Homo sapiens: one gene and its partners. The protein of the gene in region 1 interacts with the protein of each later gene in a pairwise test. Each region holds a gene or a part of one and is shown in the gene's direction. Other genes may lie near its edges. The genes, in order: PDCL2, STEEP1 and UNC13B.

Region 1 (3,654 bases):
CAGAAAGCAGAAATCAGTCAAAGGTAACCAAGCACACAAGGAAATAAGCCACCATGAGACCATGAACCAACAGAAACAGATTTACAGAGATTTTTAGATAACAGAATGATCAGAAATAGGTTATAAAACATCCGTACTGGCTGGGCGCGGTGGCTCATGCCTGTAATACCAGCACTTTGGGAGGCCGAGGTGGGCGGATCACGAGGTCAGGAGATCGAGACCATCCTGGCTAACACGGTGAAACCCCGTCTCTACTAAAAAAATACAAAAAATTAGCCAGGTTTGGTGGCAGGCGCCTGTGGTCCCAGCTACTTGGGAGGCTGAGGCAAGAGAATGGCATGAACCCAGGAGGCAGAGCTTGCAGTGAGCCCAGATCACGCCACTGTACTCCAGCCTGGGCAACAGAGCGAGACTCTCTAAAAAAAAAAAAAGTACTTATAAATACTGAAAACTATAAAACAGACAAATAGAGTAGAATAGAAAGCCTTGAAATAAACCCACACATATTTTCAAAAAATTTTTAACAAGAGTGCCAAGACCATTAAATGGGCAACAGTTAATTTTTTTTCAATAAAGGGTGCTGGGTAAACTGGGTATCCACATGCAAAAGAATGAAGTTGGAACCTTATCTTAGACTTTGTGAATCTGAAATATCTGAAACAGGTTTCAGTTGACTTAGAAAGTTTATTTTGCCAAGGTTAAGGATGTACCCATGACACAGCCTTAAGAGGTCCTGATGACATGCGTCCAGTGTGGTTGGGGTACAGCTTGCATTTCGGGAGACATCATTCAATATGTGTAAGATGTACATTGATTTGGTCTAGTAAGGCAGGACAACTTCAAGAGGGGGCTTTAAGGTCAGAAGTAGATAAGAGAGTCCTTGATCCTTTTGAGTCCTTGATTAGCCTTCCACTGAATACACAATTTAGTCTGGCTCAGTGAGTCTGCACTTTTACATAAACAGTAGAGCAGAGGAAGCAATCAGATATGCATTTGTCTCAGGTGAGTCTGAGAGGGATGACTTTCAGTTCTGTCTGTCCTTTGTCCACAAGGAATTTCCTTTTGGGCAAATTGTGAGGGAGGTGTGTAGCTTGTGTCTTTGTAGCTATTTTATTTAGGAGTAAAATGGGAGGCAGGTTTGCCTGACATAGTTCCCAACTTGACTTTTCCCTTGGCTTAGTGATTTGGGGGTCCTGAGATTTATTTTTCTTTCACAACTGTATACAAAAATTAACTCAAACTGCATCAAAGTCCTATAGCTAAAGGTAGAAATCTCTTAAAAGGAAACATAAGATAGATTCATGACATTGAGTTTGACAATAATTTCTTGGTTATGACACCAAAAGCACAGGTAACAAAAGAAAAAAATAAATTGTACTTTACCAAATTTAAAACATTTTTTTGCGTCAGAGGATATTATCAAGAGAATGAAAAGACAAGTGTTGAGACACAGTGGCTGAAACCTGTAATCCCAGCACTTTGGGAGGCTGAGGCAGGTGGATCATTTGAGGTCAGGAGTTTGAGACCAACCTGGCCAACATGGTGAAACCCAATCTCTACTAAAAATACAAAAATTAGCTGGGTGTGGTGGTGGGCATCTGTAATCTTAGCTACTCAGGAGGCTGAAGCAGGAGAATCGTTTAAACCTAGGAAGAATTCTCAGTGAGCCGAGATTGCTCCACTGCACTCCATCCTGAGCAATAGACTGAGACTTCATCTCAAAAAAAAAAAATTTAAAAAAAACAGAAAAAGAAAAAAGACAACCCACAGAATAGAAAATATTGGCTGATCATATATTTGATAAGAGGATAATATCCAGAAGATATAAAGACTTCCTAAAACTCAACAACAAAAAGACAAACAACCCAATATAAAAATGGGCAAAAGATTTTGCTATAGTTTGAGTGTGTCTGCTCCAAAATTCAGTTGTTTCCAATGTGATAGTATTAGGAGGTGGGGCCTTTAAGAGGTGATTAGGCCATGAAGTCTCCTTCCTTATAAATGGGATTAGATACCCTTATAAAAGGGCTTGCTACAGAGAGTATGTCCCTTTTTTTTTTTTTTTTTTTTTTTTTTTTTTACTATTCTGTCTTTTGCCACGTGAGGACACAGTGTTCCTCTCCTCTGGAAGACACAGTGTTCAAGGTACCATCTTGAAAGAAGAGATCAGACCCTCACTGGACAATGAACTTGACAGTGCCATAATCTTAGATTTCCCAGCCTCCAGAACAGTGAAAAATAAATTTCTGTTCTTTATAATTTACCCAGTCTAAGATATTTTGTTATAGAGTACAAACTGGACTAAGACAAACTTGAATAGACGTTTCTTAAAAGAAGATCTCCAAATAGCCAATAAACACATGAAAAGATGCTTAACATCACTAATAATGAAGGGGATGCAGCTCAAAACCACAGTCTACTTCACACCCACTAGAATGTTTATGATAGAAAAGATGGGCAATAACAAAACTGTTGATAAGGATATAGACAAATTAGAATCCTTTTGCATTGCTGGTGGGAATGTAAAATTGCACAACTGCTGTGGAAAACTGGTAATTTCCTTCCAAATTAAACAGATATCATATGATTCAGTAATTCTCCTTCCAGGTATGTACCCAAAAGAATTGAAAGTAAGGACTTAAACAGATATTTGTATACCCATTTTTATAACAGCTTTATTCCTAATAATGAAAAGTGAAAACTACCCAAATGTCCATTGATGGATGAATAAACAAAATGTGGTATATAGGTACAATGGAATATTATTCAACCTTAAAAAAGAATGGAATTCTGCTACATGCTACAACATAGTCGAACCTTGAAAACATGCTAAGCGAAATAAGCCAGTCACAAAAGGACAACTATTGTATGGTTCCACCTGCATGAAGTACACAGAATAGTCAAATACATGGTAGAAAGTAGAACATGGAACAATGGTTTCCTGGAGTTTGGAAGAGGAGAGAATGAGGGGCTATTATTTAATGAGTACAGTTTTTCTATTACAGAAATGAATAACAGAGGAAATCTTAGAAAATTAACAAACATGTGGAAACTAAACAACATGCTACTGAACAACCAATGGGTCAAAGAAGAAATTAGAAGAGAAAGTTTAAAATATATTGAGAAAAACAAAAATGGAACTACAACAAAACCTATGGAAGGCAGCAGAAGCAGATTTAAGAGGGAAATGCATAGCAATAAATGCCTAAAACAAAAAAGAACAAACTAAGCTTATAGTTATCAGAAGGAAATAAATAACAAAGAGCAGAAATAAATGAAATAAAGACTAGAAAAACAATAGAAAAAATCAAGAAAATCTTTGGTTTTTTGAAAATATAAAATCAACAAAACCTTAGCTATACTAAGAATAAAGAAGACTCAGATAAAATCAGAAACAAAAGAGGAGGCCTTACAGCTGATACCACAGAAATACAAAGCATTGTAAGACATTAATATGAACAGTTACATGCCAATGGATTGGATAACCTAGAAGAAATGGATAAATCCATAGACACATATAGCCTACCAACAGTGGATCAAGAAGAAATACAAAATCTAAACAGACCAATAACAAATAAGGAGATTGAATAAAAAATTAAAAGGCTCCCATCAACGAAAAGTCCGGGACCTGATGCCTTCACCAGTAAATTTGAC
Region 2 (3,654 bases), on another chromosome or scaffold:
GCTAATTTTTTTTTTTTTTTTTGAGACGGAGTTTCGCTCTTGTTGCCCAGGCTGGAGTGCAGTGGCACCATCTCGGCTCACTGCACCCTCCGTCTCCTGGGTTCAAGCGATTCTCCTGCCTCAGCCTCCCGAGTAGCTGGGATTACAGGCATGCACCACCATGCTCAGCTAATTTTGTATTTTTTTAGTAGAGACAGGGTTTCTCCATGTTGGTCAGGCCGGTCTCAAACTCCCGACCTCAGGTGATCCGCCAGCCTCGGCCTCCCAAAGTGCTGGGATTACAGACGTGAGCAACCGCACCCGGTTAATTTTTGTATTTTTAGGAGAGACGGGGTTTCACCATGTTGGCCAGGCTGGTCTCGAACTCCTGACCTCAGGTGATCCACCTGTCTTGGCTTCCCAAAGTGCTGGGATTACAGGCGTGAGCCACCGTGCCCGGCCAGGGCGGAGACTTTATCTGCTTTGTTGTTTGCTGAATCTTTAGCACAGTGTTAGAACAGTGCCTGCTACCTAGAGGGCCCTCACGTATTTATCGAAGAAATTAATTCTTGGTAAGGAGGTGTGGTGGAAACAGCATGTGCTTTTGAATCACTTAGAGTTGGGTCTGAATTCTTGTTCTGCTTCTTATTAGATGCATGGTATATCTCTTACCCTTTTTAACCTCAGTTCCTTCATCTTTAAAATAGGAACAACAAATCTTTACTTTAACCATTCATTGTGAAGAGTAAATGAGCTGACATGTAAACTGCCTAGTGTTCTCTAACTCCTCTCTTCACCTCCTCTATTCATCTTGAATTACTCTGACCACTTGACTTTCTCTGTGATCCTTTAGGTGCTTAATTTGCATTATATAAATTTTCTTTTTTTTTCTTTTTTTTTTCTTTTGAGAGACGGAGTTTTCCTCTGTTGCTCAGGCAGGAGTGCAGTGGTGTGATCCCAGCTCACTGCAACCCTCTGCCTCCTGGGTTCAAGCGATTCTCCTGCCTCAGCTTCCCAACTAGCTGGGACTACAGGTGTGTGCCACCACGCCCTGCTAATGTTTGTATGTTTTAGTAGAGACGGTTTCGCTATATGTTGGCCAGGCTGGTCTCGAACTTCTGACCTCAGGTGATCCACCTGCCACCTCAGCCTCCCAAAGTGCTGGATTACAAGCGTGAGCCACCGCACCTGGCCCATTATATCAATTTTCAATCTGCTTTACAACTGTACCTAATTTGTTTACTGTGTTTTCATTGTTTTCAGATTAAAATTCCTCCAACTAGGATGGATCATTTGCATACTATATAATCACCCTCTCTCTTCCTTTTTTTTTGTTTTTTGACGGAGTCTCGCTCTGTTGCCCAGGCTGAAGTGCAGTGGCACAATATTGGCTCACTGCAACCTCCACCTCCTGGGTTCAAGCAATTCTCTCGCCTCAGCCTCCCAAGTAGCTGGGCCAGGCTGGTCTTGAACTACTGACCTCAGGTGATCTGCTCGTCTTGACCTCCCAAAGTGCTGGGATTACAGGCATGAGCCACCTCGCCTGGCCTCTTTTTTTTTTTTTTTTGTAAAACAGAGACAGGGTCTTGCTGTGTTGCCCAGGCAGGAGTACAGTGGCTATTCACAGGCACAATCATGGAACACTACAGCATTGCACTCCTGGTCTCAAGCAATCGCCCTGCCTCATTCTTCTGAGTAGCTGGGACTATAGGTGCATGCCACCACGCCCAGCCTCTCTCCTTTTCTTAGCACATACCCACTTTTCCCAGTGCTTCCTTGTAGGCATTCCAGTATGCTTGATTGTGTCTCCTGATTCTAATGCATTATAACACAAACCAAGTGTACTATGATCACAGAAATACTTACAGAAACCTGAATTGCAGTATTGGGAAGGACTTTTGAGATAATATCATCTAACTCATCTTTCAAATGAGGCAAAAGTCTCCAAAGGAGGAAGTGATTTGCCAAAGATCACCAGGGTAGTAAGAGAGCTGGGTCCAAATACCAAGGTCTCCTGATAGCAAGTCATTTTTAGTTGGAACATTCAATAATAGGTTTCAATAAGCATAGTAATTGTAGTAGAAAATTCTAGTGCTAGGGATCCCACTCAAAACTTCTCAGGATATTTTGCAGTGACTCATTTGCTATATTTTGCCATGACTCTAGTGACCAAATCTCTCCATTCCTTCAGACTGCCAGTTAGAGAAATTGCCCATGAGGCCCCGGGACCGGTCCCGTGTGATTGATGCTGCCAAACATGCCCATAAGTTTTGTAACACAGAAGATGAGGAGACTATGTATCTGCGGAGGTAAGAGGTTGATGCTCCCTGTTTAGGATTTCCCTATTGTGTTGGAGTCTGTTTCTGAATAATATAAATATCACATCTATTGTTGAACAGGTCAGTTGGTCCCAATACTTTGACATTTGTGGTGGTTTTCTAACTTCTGTTAATGTAGTAATATCTTTATTGTGCTTTGTTGAAATGGTGCTCACATGTGATTCCATTGCTTTTTTTTTTTAATTGAGATGGAGTCTCACTCACTCTGTTGCTCAGGCTGGAGTGCAGTGGTGTGACCTCGGCTTACCGCAACCTCCACCTCCCAGATTCAAGCAACTCTCTTGCCTCAGCCTCCCCAGTAGCTGGGATGACAGGCGTGCGCCACCACGCCCAGCTAATTTTTGTATTTTTAGTAGAGACGCAGTTTCACCATGTCGGCCAGGCTGGTCTTGAACTCCTGGCCTCAAGTGATTCTCCCTCCTTGGCCTCCCAAAGTGCTGGGATTACAGGCATAAGCCACTGTGCCCGGCCCCTCCATTGCCATTTGATAGCCGTAGTTTGTTTACAATTTACAGGTTTGAATGAGTTCATTCAACCTGTAATCTTGTGGAGCATACCGTGTGCCAGGCACTGAGCTAGGTACTGGATCTGTGAAGATGAATAAGGTATGATTTTTACCATTAAAGAGCTCATGACTTTGAGGGAATGACTCCTATTGTGATAGGAAAAAATACTGGTCTTCTGAACGAAAGGAAAAACAGGTGGGAGTGGGTCATTTGTCCTGAATGGTGGCCAGGAAAGGCTTCAAAAGATGATGGCATTTGTGTTTAGCCTGAACTAGGATTTCACCAAGTAGATGAAGGGAATGAAGAGCATTCCAGGTGGAAGGAATATGGAAGCATTAAAAGCATCAAACATGGTGTGCTTTAGAAACCTGAATTGTCGTTTGTGACTGGAGCACAGGTTACTTTACAGGAACGGCATCATGCATACTAGGGTGAGGACAGAGTAAAGTGCTGAAGTGGACAAGTTTGGCCTTAATCTGTAGGCAATGAAGAGCCATCTCCGTTTTTTTTTTTTTGACGGAGTTTCGCTCTTGTTGCCCAGGCTGGAGTGCAATGGTGTGATCTTGGCTCACTGCAACCTCCGCCTCCCAGGTTCAAGCGATTCTCCTGCCTCAGCGTCCTGAGTAGCTGGGATTTCAGGCACCTGCCACCACGCCTGGCTAATTTTTTGTATTTTTAGTAGAGATGGGATTTCACTATGTTGGCCAGGCTGGTCTCGAACTTCTGGCCTCAGGCGATCCACCTGCCTCTGCCTCCCAAAGTGCTGGGATTAGAGGGGTGAGCCACTGCGCCCGGCCTATCTCTGTTTTTTAAGCAGGGGTGTGATGTGG
Region 3 (3,654 bases), on another chromosome or scaffold:
CTGGACTTTATGTGTAATTTTCTCATTGCTGTTTTCTTTGGCATATAATTATACTCAGTTGGACCAAATGCCTCGGTGTCTCAGATCAACATCCTCAATTAGAGGCAGATCCTTCAGCAGCAGGTAATATTTTTCTATGCCTGTTGAAAAGACCAAAGACTCTGCTCTTGTAAGTAAGTTTGACCTGTGATTTCCATGTACTTTTCTTTCTTATTTGTATTTTATTTTCCATATGAACATGTATTACTTGCTTTTTTTTTTTTTTTTGATACAGGGTCTCACTCTGTTGCCCAGGCTGGGGTGCAGTGGCATGATCACGGCTCACTGCAGTCTTGACCTCCCTGGGCTCAGGTGATGCTCTCACCTTAGACTCCTGAGTAGCTGGAACTACAGGCTTTCTTGTAGAGACAGGGTTTTGCTATGTTTCCCAGGGTGGTCTTGAACTCCTGGGCTCAAGCAATCTGCCTGTCTCAGTCTCCTAAAGTGTTGGGATTAACAGGTGTGAGCCACTGTGCCCGACTGCATTTTTAAAACAGAACAAAACAATGTCACTGGTGAATGGTAACAGGACCAAGTTGATTTATATTATGATTTGCCCTTTAAAAAACTCGTTACTGGACAGGTGAGGTGGCTCATGCCTGTAATCCCAGTACTTTGGGAGGCTGAGGCAAGAGAATCACTTGCATCCAGGAGTTTGAGACCAGCCTGGGCAACATAGCAAGACCCCATTCCTACTAAAAAAATATTTAAAAATTAGCTGTGCGTGTTGACGCATGCCGGTAGTCTCAGCTACTTGGGAGGCGAGGCAGGAGGATGGCTTGAGTCCAAGAGATTGAGGGTGTAGTGAGCCATGTTCATGCCACTGCATTCTAGCCTGGGTAACAGAGCCATCTCAAAAAGTTCATGGCTTATCATTAATCATCCATCTAACTAGACACGTTGATTGTGCATTGATTCTACTCTAGGGAAAGTCCAAAAATATATTTCGGTTTACAGCCATTGTGGAAAGTAGGAATGGTAATGATATTAGAGTTTTCAGACATAGGTATAGGTTGGTCAGATACTTCTCATCTCCTTCCCCCATCCTGCCACCCCCTGCTGAATGTTATTGTCATCTGCCTCAGCTAACTCCTTTTTGCTGGGCTTCCATCGATCGTGGTTCTAGTAGTCCCTGCCCTTAGAGCAGAGCTGTGGCTGTGTTCCTTTCACTTAGGGCCTCAGGAAGTTGATTGTGCTTTGTGTGAGCCAGGCAGTGATGGGGGAAAGGACCAATTTGCTCTGCTATGCTATTGTTATAAACTGTTCTGTTCCTTATAAGTAGCGTATTCTGTAATTTAGTTTCTAAAAATGGGGTTTCTGAAAGTTGGGCTCTTTAGGCCAATAAGCTTAATTTTTATCCTATTTACCTGTGCTGTGTATTTCAGACTTTGAGTTTGTTTAAAGTTTGGGCTGTGTATCATTAGTAAATATTTGTTGGATACTTTCTCTGTGCATGTTTATGACACAAATCTGTATTGTAGATAAGAGGCCACGGAATCTAGATAGGTTTTAAAATGTCTGTTATACAGTGTTCTTATATAAACTCAAATAATCCATTAGGATTATTAGGTCTGATTTGGAATAAGCAGAATAAATTAAGTTCTTCCTTGAGTAGGGAAATAACTGCACTGTCTTGTTTTAACATTTATTTTCACATTGTTATTATTACTGTTTTTTTTTTGTTTTGTTTTTGAGATGGAGTCTCGTTCTGTTGCCCAGGTTGGAGTGCAGTGGTGCAATCTCAGCTTACTGCAACCTCTGCCTCCCAGGTTCAAGCGATTCTCCTGACTCAGTCTCCTGAGTAGCTGGGACTACAGGTGTCCACCACCACGCCTAGCTAATTTTTGTATTTTTAGTAGAGATGGGGTTTCACCATGTTGGCCAGGCTGGTCTCTAACTCCTGACCTCAAGTGATCTGCCCACTGCGGCCTCCCAAAGTGTTGGGATTACAGATGTGAGCCACCACGCCCAGCCTTATTTTATGATTAGTTTTTTGAGACTGGATCTTGCTCTGTTGCCCAGGCTGGAGTGCAATGGTGCGAACATGGCTCTCTGCAGCCTCGACCTCCTGGGATCAAGTGATATGCTCATTTCAGCCTTCTGAGTACCTGGGACTACAGGTGTGAACTACCATGCTTGGCTAATTAAAAAAAAATTTTTTTTAGAGATGGGGTCTTGCTATGTTGCCCAGGCTGGTCTTGAACTCTTGGGCTCAAGCAATCCTTCTGCCTCAGCCTCCTAAAATGCTGGGATTATAGTCATGAGCCACTGTGCATTTAAAGCAAGAGTCTTTGAGTTTGGGGGTATTTTATATATACCTTCTCTTTTTTTTTGAGACAGGTTCTTATTCTGTTGCTTAGGCTAGAGTGCCATGGTGCTAATCAGGGCTCACTGCAGCCTCAATCTTGCCAAGCTCAGGTGATTCTTCCACCTCAGCCTCCTGAGTAGCTGGGACTGTATGCTTGTGCAACCATACATGGCTAATTTTTGTATTTTTTGTAGAGACAGGGTTTTGTCACTTTACCCAGGCTAATCTTCAACCTGTGGAGTCAAGTGGTCTGCCCGCCTCAGCCTCCCAAAGTGCTGGGATTACAGGCATGAACCACTGTGCCTGGCTCCTTTTTTTTTGAGATGGAGTCTCATTCTTTTACCCCGGCTGGAATGCAGTGGCTCAATCTTGGCCCACTGTAACCTCCATCTCCCAGGTTCAAGAGATTCTCCTGCCTCAGCCTCCCAAGTAGGTGGGACTACAGGTGCCCGCCACCACGCCCAGCTAATTTTTGTATTTTCAGTAGAGACAGGGTTTCACCATGTTGGCCAGGCTGGTCTCAAACTCCTGACCTCAGGTGACCCACCCGCCTTGGCCTCCCAAAGTGTTGGGATTACAGGTGTGAGCCACCATGCCTGGTCTCAAGTATAGTTTTTTAAAGAAAGAAGTCTCACTCTGTTGCCCAGACTGGAGTGCAGTGATGTGATCATAGCTCACTGTAGCCTCAAACTCCTGGGCTCAAGAGATCCTCCCGTCTCCGTCTCCTAAGTAGTTGGGACTACAAGCATGTGCCACCACACCTGGCTAATTTTTGAAAATTTTTTTGTAGAGATGGGTCTCCCTATGTTGCCCAGGCTGGTGTCGAACTCCTGGCTTCAAGCAGTCCTTCTCTCTGGGACTCCCAAAGTTCTGAGGTGACATGCATGAGCCACTGTTCCCTACCCCAGGCTAGTTTATTTTGATTAACATGTTTGTCAGATTCTTCCACTTGATGTGTGTGGCAGTTAGTTCATTGATTTTCGTTGCTATGTAGTATCTTGTTAGATGCATATACTGTTGTTTATTTATTTAATGTATTTCTTAATCTCATGACAGTGTAGATTAGATTATGTGGGGAGAAATTGGAGGCACTTGAATTATAGCAGGAGTGATTTAGATTAAACATAAATTAAAATTTCTTGATGAAATTTGAACTGCCACAGAAAAGCTGTGAAATTTATTTTTCTATGGCTCTTCAAAAATAAGCCCTATTTCCTTCATTTAAAATTTTATTTATTAATTTTTTTTTGTAGAGATGGGGTCTCACTATGCTGTCCAGGCAGGTCTCAGGTCTCAAACTCCTGGGC

Evidence for each region.
Region 2: the proteins of PDCL2 (region 1) and STEEP1 interact in a two-hybrid assay, tested with the Homo sapiens proteins (one large-scale study listed by BioGRID).
Region 3: the proteins of PDCL2 (region 1) and UNC13B interact in a two-hybrid assay, tested with the Homo sapiens proteins (one large-scale study listed by BioGRID).

Annotation. Positions count from the first base shown.
Region 1 is NC_000004.12:55,585,643-55,589,296, reverse strand, and holds part of PDCL2 (phosducin-like protein 2), read left to right. Parts: intron 1-3,654. UniProt on the Homo sapiens protein: Essential for male fertility, spermiogenesis and acrosome formation.
Region 2 is NC_000023.11:119,558,902-119,562,555, reverse strand, and holds part of STEEP1 (STING ER exit protein), read left to right. Parts: intron 1-2,170; coding exon 2,171-2,288; intron 2,289-3,654.
Region 3 is NC_000009.12:35,168,453-35,172,106, forward strand, and holds part of UNC13B (protein unc-13 homolog B), read left to right. Parts: intron 1-3,654. UniProt on the Homo sapiens protein: Plays a role in vesicle maturation during exocytosis as a target of the diacylglycerol second messenger pathway.